3 linked regions of the Homo sapiens genome follow. The protein of the gene in region 2 purifies or fractionates together with the protein of the main gene of each other region. This does not show direct contact. Each region holds a gene or a part of one and is shown on either strand. Other genes may lie near its edges.

The links.
Region 1: the proteins of SMOC1 (region 2) and CTH purify together in Homo sapiens (affinity purification with mass spectrometry; one large-scale study listed by BioGRID and IntAct). This does not show direct contact.
Region 3: the proteins of SMOC1 (region 2) and P2RY8 purify together in Homo sapiens (co-immunoprecipitation; one large-scale study listed by IntAct). This does not show direct contact.

What each region holds. Positions count from the first base shown.
Region 1 is NC_000001.11:70,421,242-70,424,900, reverse strand, and holds part of CTH (cystathionine gamma-lyase), read right to left. Parts: intron 3,336-3,659; coding exon 3,226-3,335; intron 1,768-3,225; exon of another isoform or gene 1,629-1,767; intron 617-1,628; coding exon 485-616; intron 1-484. UniProt on the Homo sapiens protein: Catalyzes the last step in the trans-sulfuration pathway from L-methionine to L-cysteine in a pyridoxal-5'-phosphate (PLP)-dependent manner, which consists on cleaving the L,L-cystathionine molecule into L-cysteine, ammonia and 2-oxobutanoate.
Region 2 is NC_000014.9:69,882,257-69,885,915, reverse strand, and holds part of SMOC1 (SPARC-related modular calcium-binding protein 1 isoform 1 precursor), read right to left. Parts: intron 635-3,659; exon of another isoform or gene 1-634. UniProt on the Homo sapiens protein: Plays essential roles in both eye and limb development. Probable regulator of osteoblast differentiation.
Region 3 is NC_000023.11:1,527,141-1,530,799, forward strand, and holds part of P2RY8 (S-geranylgeranyl-glutathione receptor P2RY8), read right to left. Parts: intron 1-3,659. UniProt on the Homo sapiens protein: G protein-coupled receptor for S-geranylgeranyl-glutathione (GGG), an endogenous metabolite present in lymphoid tissues.

The sequences.
Region 1 (3,659 bases), on a different chromosome or scaffold from region 2:
CTGGAGTGCACTGGCGTCATCTCAGCTCACTGCAAGCTCCGCCTCCCGGGTTCATGCCATTCTCCTGCCTCAGCCTCCCGAGTAGCTGGGACTACAGGCACCCGCCACTGCGCCCAGCTAATTTTTTGTATTTTTAGTAGAGACGGGGTTTCACCATGGTCTTGATCCCTGATCTCCTGATCCGCCCGCCTCGGCCTCCCAAAGTGCTGGGATTACAGGCGTGAGCCACCACGCACAGCCCTGAGAACTGGTAAGCTTTAATAAATAAAAAACACAAAGTAACATAGAGGATATTAACATAGGTTTGAAAAGATATTAACTAATGGTAGAAGAGGTCCAAATTTAATTCTCGATCCAGTAAATAATTAATTATGATTAGATTTCATGAATTTGATCATGATTTTAATTTAAGCAAGTCCTTTCTTTCCTAATTACAGATATATGTGGTCTACTAATTGTGCCAAAAAAAATTATTTTCATTTACCTGGAAATATGGTGACATAAAAGTGTTATCCACGACCAAAATAATGTCTCCATGCTTATGGACAATATGTGCACAGCCTTCAATGTCAATCACCTTCTGGGTGGGGTTTGTGGGGGTTTCGATCCAAACAAGCTAAAATAATTCAGCAAATAACAGTAGTTTGTAAAAATATACTTTACAAACATACATCTCATATATTGTAACAATCTGGGAAGCTACATTGTATAATGGAAACACATGGATGATGATGTTGGGAGGTTCAAATCTGAATCCCAGCCTTACCTGCAAATTTCTGAAGCCGTAGGTATGTAATGTATCCTATTGATCTGTATAATTGGGTTGGTAATACCTATCTTACAGAATTTTTTGTAAAGATCAAGTGAGATAACGTACATGTAAACAGAAAAGTACTAAAGTTAATTATTGTACTTTTCTTAAAAAAGAAAGTGTATTCCAAAGACAGCTCAGTGTCTGGAAATTTTGTCTCAGAGATGAATAACATAGATTGTGTAAGAATACATCCTAGAATTTTAATGAAAGAGAATTATCCCTATGATGCCAAAAATATATTTAATATGAACTTAATGCCAGAAACTCTAGAAACTATAGAATAAGTATCTAAGACTTGAAGAGCATGGGCTTTAGACTAAAGAAGAAAAGTGACACCCACAACAGAAAACGTGGTTACCGCCTACTTAAAAAGTAACAATGACCTTTATATCTCAAAACCTACCACAATTCAGACACATGGTAGATGCTTGATAGTTATCAAAAAGACCAAAGAAAAGAATTCTATTTGTTGAACGAAATGCCATTGTACTGAATTACTTTCTTTTTTTTTTTTAAGCAGCAGGGTCTCACTTTGTTGCCCAGGCTAGAGTGCAGTGGCATGATCACAGCTAACGGCAGCTTCGACCTTTCAGGCCCAAGTGATCCTCCTACCTCAGCCTCTCCAGTAGTTGGAACTACAGGCATGTGCCACCATGCTCGGCCAATTATTATTATTATTTTTTTTTTTTTGCAGAGAAAGGGTCTCGCTATATATCTTGAACTCCTGGTTCAAGTGATCCTCCTGCCTCAGCCTCCCAAAGTGCTGGTATTACAGGCATGAGCCACTGTGCCCAGCTGATTCTTTTTTTATTACCTGTTATTTAAATGGGCAAGAGATCTGGTTTAAACTCTTCTGACTTTAGAGTTTTACTCTGGAAAAGATAAGATGGTTAAATAATACATATTCTACAAAAATCTTGAATTATTTAAAGAATCTATAAAAATTATTCCTGGTAAGAATTTATTATTCCTACTGATAATAAAAAAAATAAAAATTACCAAATAAATAAAAAGTAGGTTTTACATGGACTTAAACATTCTACTTCAAGTGAAAAACCTGATATTTTAGGAAGGAAAAGGTATTAATTCAAGTTGGTAGAGTCACTATATAAAATTCTGTTGACAAGACTTACTGTACTCATAATTTGCTTTCCTCCCTTAGAAAGATTCAGACCAGGGCCCGGCACGGTGGCTCATGCCTGTAATCGCAGCACTTTGGGAGGCTGAGGCAGGCGGATCACAAGGTCAGGAGTTCAAGATCAGCCTGGCCAACAAGGTGAAACCCCATCTCTACTAAAAATACAAAAATTAGCTGAGCATGGTGATGGGCGCCTGTAATCCCAGCTACTCGGTAGGCTGAGGCAGGAGAATCATTTGAACCCAAGAGGCAGAGCTTGCAGTGAGCTGGGATTGCGCCATTGCACTACAGCCTGGGTGACAGGGTGAGACTCCGTCTCAAAAAAAAAAAAAAAAAAAAGACTCAGACCAGCTATTTTAATGTGACTTTTCTCCCAAGCAAGATAAAAAACAAGTTCTTCTGGAAACAAACCTTAATTACCAAAAGCTCAACCATGTTAATGTGCAAAGTAATTATTTGTACATGAAAAGATATTTATTTTTTAGCATTCATTGCAACATAATCTTGGGTACAATTCTAACCTTTTAATCATTAGCAAAAAGTTGTAAACAGCTGACTTATAAAAGACACTGGTCCTTCTTTTATCCACACAGAATTTAAATAAGGTCCCAAGAAAGAATATCACATATGCCATTCACTCAGACACAAAACACCTTCCGGTGGCATACAAATTTCCCAGGATGGAAGCTAAAGATTGCTTGTGGCCTATTCTCCACATCTAACTAGTATCTGGGCAGCATCCCTTACAGCCCGGCAAAGCCACTGTGCTTCGAGTTTGGGGGTTTGGCAGGCTTCTTTTTCTATAGTCCAATCTCTGTGATGACTTCTGTTACCAATACTCTTTTGGCTATGCAGTTAAAAATTAGGTGCTCCTGCATAGAAATTTTTTTAACAATTACCATGTATCCAGGAACTATACTAAGCATTTCATATTCATTATCTCATTTGATTCTCACACTCCCGTTTCTATAAAACCGGTATAATTATCTCCATTTTGCAAATGAAGAAACTGAGACTTTGGTTAAATAATTTGCCCAAGATAATATACTAACTAAGATAACAGAATCACAATTTGAATTCTACTCCAGAAATCATGTACTACCATTATGCTATAACACCCCGGAGATGACAGTCTATCTTAATTTTGTTGATGTTTCCAATGGCATAAAATAAAATTTGTTATTCACATTAAATTATATCCTCTAGTAAACAGAAATGATGAAAACAAAACATCGAAGGAAAAACAGGCAAAACTGAAAATGAGCTGAGTTACCTTGGTTTCTGGTGTAATTGCTGCCTCTAGTAATTTGATTTTGGAACAATCAACAAAAGAAATCTTTAATCCAAATTCAGATGCCACTTGCCTGAAGTACCTGTTTGTACCTGAGACAGAAGGGAATCAGATAAAATGAAAAGAACATTGCATTAAGAAACATTCATTCCTTCTATGTATAAACACTTACAAAATATATGGAACTCTCAGTCACCAAGGAAAATGCAACTAAAAGCAATTCTAGTTTGGTTAAATAGTTTGGCTATCTGATATAGTAAAGAATAATAAGGTTTGTTCTCTAAAGGCTCAAGAGTCAAATAAAACACACTTGAGATCCAAAAGTAGCATGAAGCAAATAATGTTTTTCAAAACATCCAATCTCCACTAAGTGACATGCTTCCTGAAACATCATATCTTTTCAAACAATTTCTACC
Region 2 (3,659 bases):
GTGCCTCCTGCGATTAACCAGTTCACCCAGGCCCTGGACCGCCAAACAGCTACTCAGCTGCTTAAGCTGGCCCACAAGTACAGGCCAGAGACAAAGCAAGAGAAGAAGCAGAGACTGTTGGCCCGGGCCGAGAAGAAAGCTGCTGGCAAAGGGGACGTCCCGAAGAAGAGACCACCTGTCCTTCGAGCAGGAGTTAACACTGTCACCACCTTGGTGGAGAACAAGAAAGCTCAGCTGGTGGTGATTTCACACGACATGGATCCCATCGAGCTGGTTGTCTTCTTGCCTGCCCTATGTCGTAAAATGGGGGTCCCTTACTGCATTATCAAGGGGAAGGCAAGACTGGGACGTCTAGTCCACAGGAAGACCTGCACCACTGTCGCCTTCACACAGGTGAACTCAGAAGACAAAGGCGCTTTGGCTAAGCTGGTGGAAGCTATCAGGACCAATTACAATGACAGATACGATGAGATCCGCCGTCACTGGGGTGGCAATGTCCTGGGTCCTAAGTCTGTGGCTCGTATCGCCAAGCGCAAAAAGGCAAAGGCTAAAGAACTTGCCACTAAACTGGGTTAAATGTACACTGTTGAGTTTTCTGTACATAAAAATAATTAAAATAATACAAATTTTCCTTAAAAAAAAAAAAAAAGAAGTTGTTCGAAGGAGAGAGTAATCGTTCCTAAGCAAAAAGAATGCTCTGTAGAAAAGTTCCTAGAGAGTAATGTTGGAACTGGGTTTTGAAGGATGAATCAAGTGATCAAGAGGTGAGAGAAGAAATAACAAATATCTAAAACATTTAAGAAATAAGTTTCAGGTTGAAGAATACACAAATGAATGGAAAGAGATGTCACGTTCATGAATTGGAAGAGCAAATGTTGTGAAAATGTCTATACTTCCCAAAGCAATCTACAGATTCAGTGCAATCCCTATAAAAATACTAAGATGTTCTTCATAGAAATAGAAAAAAAAACCCTAAAATTTTTGTAGAACCACAAAAGACCCTGAATAGCCAAAGCAAAGTAAAAAGTAACAAGAACAAAGCCAGAGGCATCACACTATATGACTTCAAAATAAACTACAAAGCTATAGAACCAAGACAGCATGGTAATGGCATAAAAACAGACACATAGACCAATGGAACAGAAGACAGAGCCCAAAAATAAATCCACGCATTTACAGACAACTGATTTCAACAAAGGTACCAAGAACACACAATGGGGAAAGGAAAATCTTCAATAAATGGTGTTAGGAAAACTGGATATCCACATGCAGAAGAATGAAATTAGACCCTCATCTCTCACCATATACAAAAATTGACTCAAATGAATTAAAGACTTAAATGTAAGATCCAAAACTATGACACTATTAAAAGAAAACATAGGGGGAAAGCTCCATGACTTTGGTTTGGGGACCTCAAAAGCACAAGCAACAAAAGCAAAAATAGACAAATGAAATTATACCAAACTAAAAAGCTTCTACACACCAAGGAAAACAATTAACCAAGTAAAGAGATAACCTAGAGAATGGGAGAACATATTCACAAACTGTATATCTGATAAGGAGTTAATATGCAAAGTACACAGAGAACTCAAATCACTTAATAGCAAAAAAAACAAAAAACAATGCAATGAAAAAATGGGCAAAAGATCTGAATAGGTATTTCTCAAAAGAAGACATAGAAATGGGCAATAGGTATATTTAAAAATGCTCGGCCGGGCGCGGTGGCTCACGCCTGTAGTCCCAACACTTTGGGAGGCCGAGGCGGGTGGATCATGAGGTCGGGAGATCGAGACCATCCTGGCTAACAAGGTGAAACCCCGTCTCTACTAAAAATACAAAAAATTAGCCGGGCGCGGTGGCGGGCGCCTGTAGTCCCAGCTACTCGGGAGGCTGAGGCAGGAGAATGGCGTGAACCCGGGAAGCGGAGCTTGCAGTGAGCCAAGATTGCGCCACTGCAGTCCGCAGTCCGGCCTGGGCGACAGAGCGAGACTCCGTCTCAAAAAAAAAAAAAAAAAAAAAAAAAAAATGCTCAACATCACTAATCATCAGGGAAATGCATTCAAACCACAATGAGATACCACCTCACTCCAGTTAGAATGGCTATTATCAAAAAGACAAAAAACAACAAGTGCTGGTAAGGATATGGAGAAAAGGGAGTTCTCACATACTGTTGGTGGGAACATAAATTAGTACAGCCATCATGAGAAACAGTAAAAACATTCCTCAAAAAATTTAAAGCAGAACTAGCATATGATCCAGCAATCTCACTGCTGGACATTTATCCAAAGGAAATGAAATCAGTATGTTGAAGAAATACCTGTTCTCCCATGTTTATTGCAGCATTGTTCACAATAGCCAGGATATGAAATCAACCTAATTGTCTATCAGTGGATGAATGGATAGAGAAAATATGGTATATATACACAAGGAATACTATTCAGCCACAGAAAAGAATGAAGTCCTGTCATTTGCAACAATGTAGATGAACCTGGAGGACGTTAAGAAAAGTAAGCCAGCCACAGAAGGACAGATACTGCATAATCTCACTCATATGTGGAATCTAAAAAAATTGGTCTCATAGAAGTAGAAAGTAGAACAGTGGTTACCAGAGGCTGAGGAAGGAAGAGGGGAGAGGGAAAGGAGAGAGGTTGGTCAAAGGGTACATAATTATAGTTAGAGAGGAGTAATAAATTCAAGAGATCTATTCAAAGTGACTATAGTTAATGACAAGTTATTGTATCCTTGAAAAATGCAAAGAGTGGATGTTAAGTGCTCTCACCACAAAAATAATAATTATGCGAGGTAATGCTATCATTAATTAGCTAGATTTAACTATTTCATAATGTATATATACTTCAAAACATCATATTGTGCACAATAAATACATACAATGCTATCTGTCAAATTTAAAAAATAAAAATCCATTTCTGACTCAGACCTCTTGATCTTCGCATCATCTCCTATTTCTCACACTTCTTAAATCTAGTTCCTGCCTCCAGTCAAAGTGGAACCTGTAATCACTCTCAAACACACATTATCTGCATTTATTTGTTCATTCCATCAGTACCAACAAAGTAAATCTTGACAGGTGTCTGGCCCCTTGCTGAGCTCTGGAGATAAATCCCTGGACAAGACAGAAACAGTTCCTGCCTTCACCCAGCTTTCCATCTTCAAGGGAGACACAGAATTTAACAAAGACAGGCAGTTGGCTTGACCATCGGCCAGACACCATCAGCCAGGGAGAGCCCCTCCCCCATCCCATCCTCCCCTGAAACATTTTCAGTAAATTGTGCAGGATTAAAGAAACGGCTGCCTCCTCAGTGATTAAAAGAATCCTGACCAACGTCCCAGCTAGCCAAGCAACCACTCACAGTTGAGAGACCCCAAAATCAGGTGCTTCCTACATAATAGCCTCCAATCTGATACTCGATAGCCGCTGGTTTCCAGAGTCAAACAAATGTCAAGAATTTTATGAAGGAAGGCAGGAAGCAAATAAGGGGGCGAGGACTGGGGTCTAGGCCTCGGGGGAGCTCAATTAGTGAGCCAGATAAAGTTAAACTGAAAGGGCATGCTCTTGGTTTCCTAGAAAGCCAGCTGGAAAAGATGCCAATCCTTAAGCCTCTGTCACTCAAAAGATTAACAGAAGAGACTTAGGAGCG
Region 3 (3,659 bases), on a different chromosome or scaffold from region 2:
TACCTCAGACTCCCAAAGTGCTGGGATTACAGGCGTGAGCCACCGCGCCCAGCCTATTCATTCATTTCTTATCCATCCACCTACCTATCCATCTGTTCATCCGTCCATCTATTTATTCATTCATCTACTCATTCATTCATTCATCCACTTATTCATTCCTTATCCATCCACTCATCTATCCATCCATCCATCCATCCGTTTATCCATCCACTTATCCATACATCCACTATTCATTTGCCCATTCATTTATTCATGATCCATTCATTCACTCATTCATTTATCTATTCATTCATTCATTTATTCCTTATCCATCCACTCATCCATCCATCCGTTCATCCTTCAATCCATCCATTCAGTCATCCACCCATTTATCAATACACCCACTATCATTCACCCATTCATGTATCTATTCATTCAATCATTTATTCCTTATTCATCCACCTATCTATCCATCTGTTCATCCATCCATCCATTTATTCATTCATCTACTCATTCATTCATCCATCCAATCATCCCTTCATTCATTCATTCATCCACTCATTCATTCCTTATCCATTTACTCATCTATCCATCCATCCATCCATCCATCCATTCATCCATTCATCCACTCTTCATTCACCTGTCTACATATCCATCCATCCACTCACTAATGTACTAATCCACTCATTCACTCATTCATTCATTTATTCATTCACCCATCTATTTATGCAGCCATCCATTCAACCATCCAACAAACAGTACTGAGGCCATGTTAATCTATTCTGGTCTCTCATCTACAAAGTCACAGCCCCTACAGGGACCCTGCTCATTCATTCCCTGTGGCTGAGACTGAAGGGGTATCTCCTGTTTCTATTCCACGTGTGGCCACCTGCTGGTCTGTCCCTGTCCTGAGTGCAGGAGTAGTCTCATTCTCCTCCACCCCAAGAACAGATGAGTGATAAATAAATACCTGGAGACAGAATGCCTCCAACCCCAGGGTAATAGCCTGAGTATCCTAGAAGTTTCCTGTGTTCATGCCAAGAGCTTGTGATGGACATATGGACACTGTAGATGGACAACAGCGCCTTCACTGAGCAGCTAGTGCCTGGGAGGCCTCCAGCTTCACTGAGCCTCAGGTTTCATCTATTGCATCTCACAGAGAGGCTGTCTGCAACATGCCCATTTCAACCACTGGCTGAGAGGCTCATGCAGGTATGCATGTGACAGGGCTCCTTGCTGGAGAGTGGGTTCCTGGAGATTCCATCAGAGCTACTGCTGCACAACTGCCCCTTGAGGAGGCCATCACAGCTCTGAGCAGCAGGCGCTGCCAGTCAGCACCGTGTGAACTCAAAGTCTTGCATTCATCCTCATACGACATCTTCAAAACCACTTTAAACGTCCCAGGGAAGCCCGGAGGAGCAAGTGCTTCCAAGAGGCTGGCTCTGGTCTTTGGATTGAGTGTGGATTTGAGTCTCTTTGAATGAGTGTGGATTTGAGTTTCTTTGAATGAGTGTGGATTTGAGTCTCTTTGAATGCGTGTGGGTTTGAGCCTCTTTGAATGATTGTGGACTTGAGTCTCTTTGAATGAGTGTGGATTTGAGTCTCTTTGAATTCGTGTAGGTTTGAGTCTCTGAATGAGTGGACTTGAGTCTGTTTGAATGAGTATGGATTTGAGTCTCTTTGATTGCGTGTGGGTTTGAGTCTCTTTGAATGAGTGTGGATTTGAGTCTCTTTGAATGAGTGTGGACTTGAGTCTCTTTGAATGAGTTGGATTTGAGTCTCTTTGAGTGTGGATTGGAGTCTCTGAATGTGCGTGGATTTGAGTCTCCTCATTCCTGCACTTTTTCAGTTCCCTTTGTTGCATGGGACAGTATAAATGACGCTCCCCATTGATCCAGTTTTGCAAGTAAAAATGTCACATGTGGAAGCCAGCATTTAGTCCTCGGGCAGATAAGCATGTTTGATGAGAATAACACGTACACACAGCGGGGCCCTTGGTCTTGGAAAGGTGGAGAATAAATCCTCCATTTCCCCTGAGACCTGACCTGCACAGGGAATATCTGCTTAATCTACACATGTGTGGCTTGTAACGACAGAGTCTCTTCAATTCTACTTACTTTATTATAGTAACAAGAGCATGCATACAGCACATTGGGAGATGGAGAAATGGAAGGAAGTGATCCAGAGTCCCTTGACCCAGCCCATTCTCTCCCTGAGACCTGGGGGATGGGACATGATCTTGCTTCTCCTTCCAGGTCTCTGGAAGGATCATCTTGTCTTATCTTGCCTGCCTCTCACCCTGTGGTTCAGAATTGCGGGAGATTCTGTTCCAGTGGGGATGCTTGTCTATATCTTGGGCAGTTTGGGGTGTCACAACTGGAGGGTGTACTCCTGGGGCGTGGTGGGTGGAGCCTGGGAAGATGCTCAGTGCCCTGCAGTGCACAGGATAGGCTCAACACAGAGAATCCTCCAGCCCTACATGGCAGCAGTGCTGAGGCTGACACCCTGCCTGAGCATGAGAGAGTCTCTGTTAGTGACTATCTATCCATCTATATCTATCTATCATATCTATCATTTATCAATTTATCTATATATCATATCTAGCTCTCTGGCACCTATATCTATTTATTTATTAATCTTCTCTGTCTGTCATCTATCTATACCTTTCTAGCATTTATCTCTCATCTCTATCATTTATCTGCCTACCATTTGACAGTGGTTTCAACTAGGGGTGATTTTTCTCATCACGGCACACTGGGTAATGTCTGAGGACAGTTCTGGTTGTCGCAACTGTGGGGGTGCTCCTGGCATCTGGTGGGTGGATCCCGGGGATGCTTCTCAATACCTTACACTGCACAGGATGGCCCCACCACAGAGAATCACCCGGCCCCAAATGTCTATAGTGTTGACGTGGAAAGATCCTGCTTTTAGTATAGAGAATCTCTCCTCTCTCTCTCTCTCTCCGTCATCCATCTATGTATCCATGTATCTATGTATCTATGCATCTATGTATGTATGTATGTATGTATGTATGTATGATCTATCTATCTATCTATCTATCTATCTATCTATCTATCTATCTATCTATCTATCTATGTATCCATGTATCTATGTATGTATCTATCTATCTCTATTACCTATCATCACCATTATCTATCTATCTATCTATCTATCTATCTATCTATCTATCTGTCATCTATCTATATGTATGTACATATCTATCTATCTTATCTATTGCTCATCTATCTAGGTATCTCTCTAATCTATCATCTATCTCTCTAATCTATTAATGCACCTATGTATGTATCTATGTATCTATCTATCTAATCTATTTATCCATGTATGTATGTATGTATCTACCTATCTAATCTATGTATGTATGTATATATGTATCTAATTTATGTACGTACATATGTATGTATCTATTCTATCTATGTATCTATCTATCTGATTGATCTATCTCTCTATCATCACCATTATCTATCTATATGTATGTGTGTATCTATCTATCCTATCTATCTATCTCTCATCTATCTATGTATCTCTCTAATCTATCATCTATTTAATCTATGCATCTATATATCTATCTATCTAATCTATTTATCCATGTATGTATGTATCTATCTAATCTATGTATGTATATATCTATCTAATTTACGTATGTATCTTTTCTATCTATC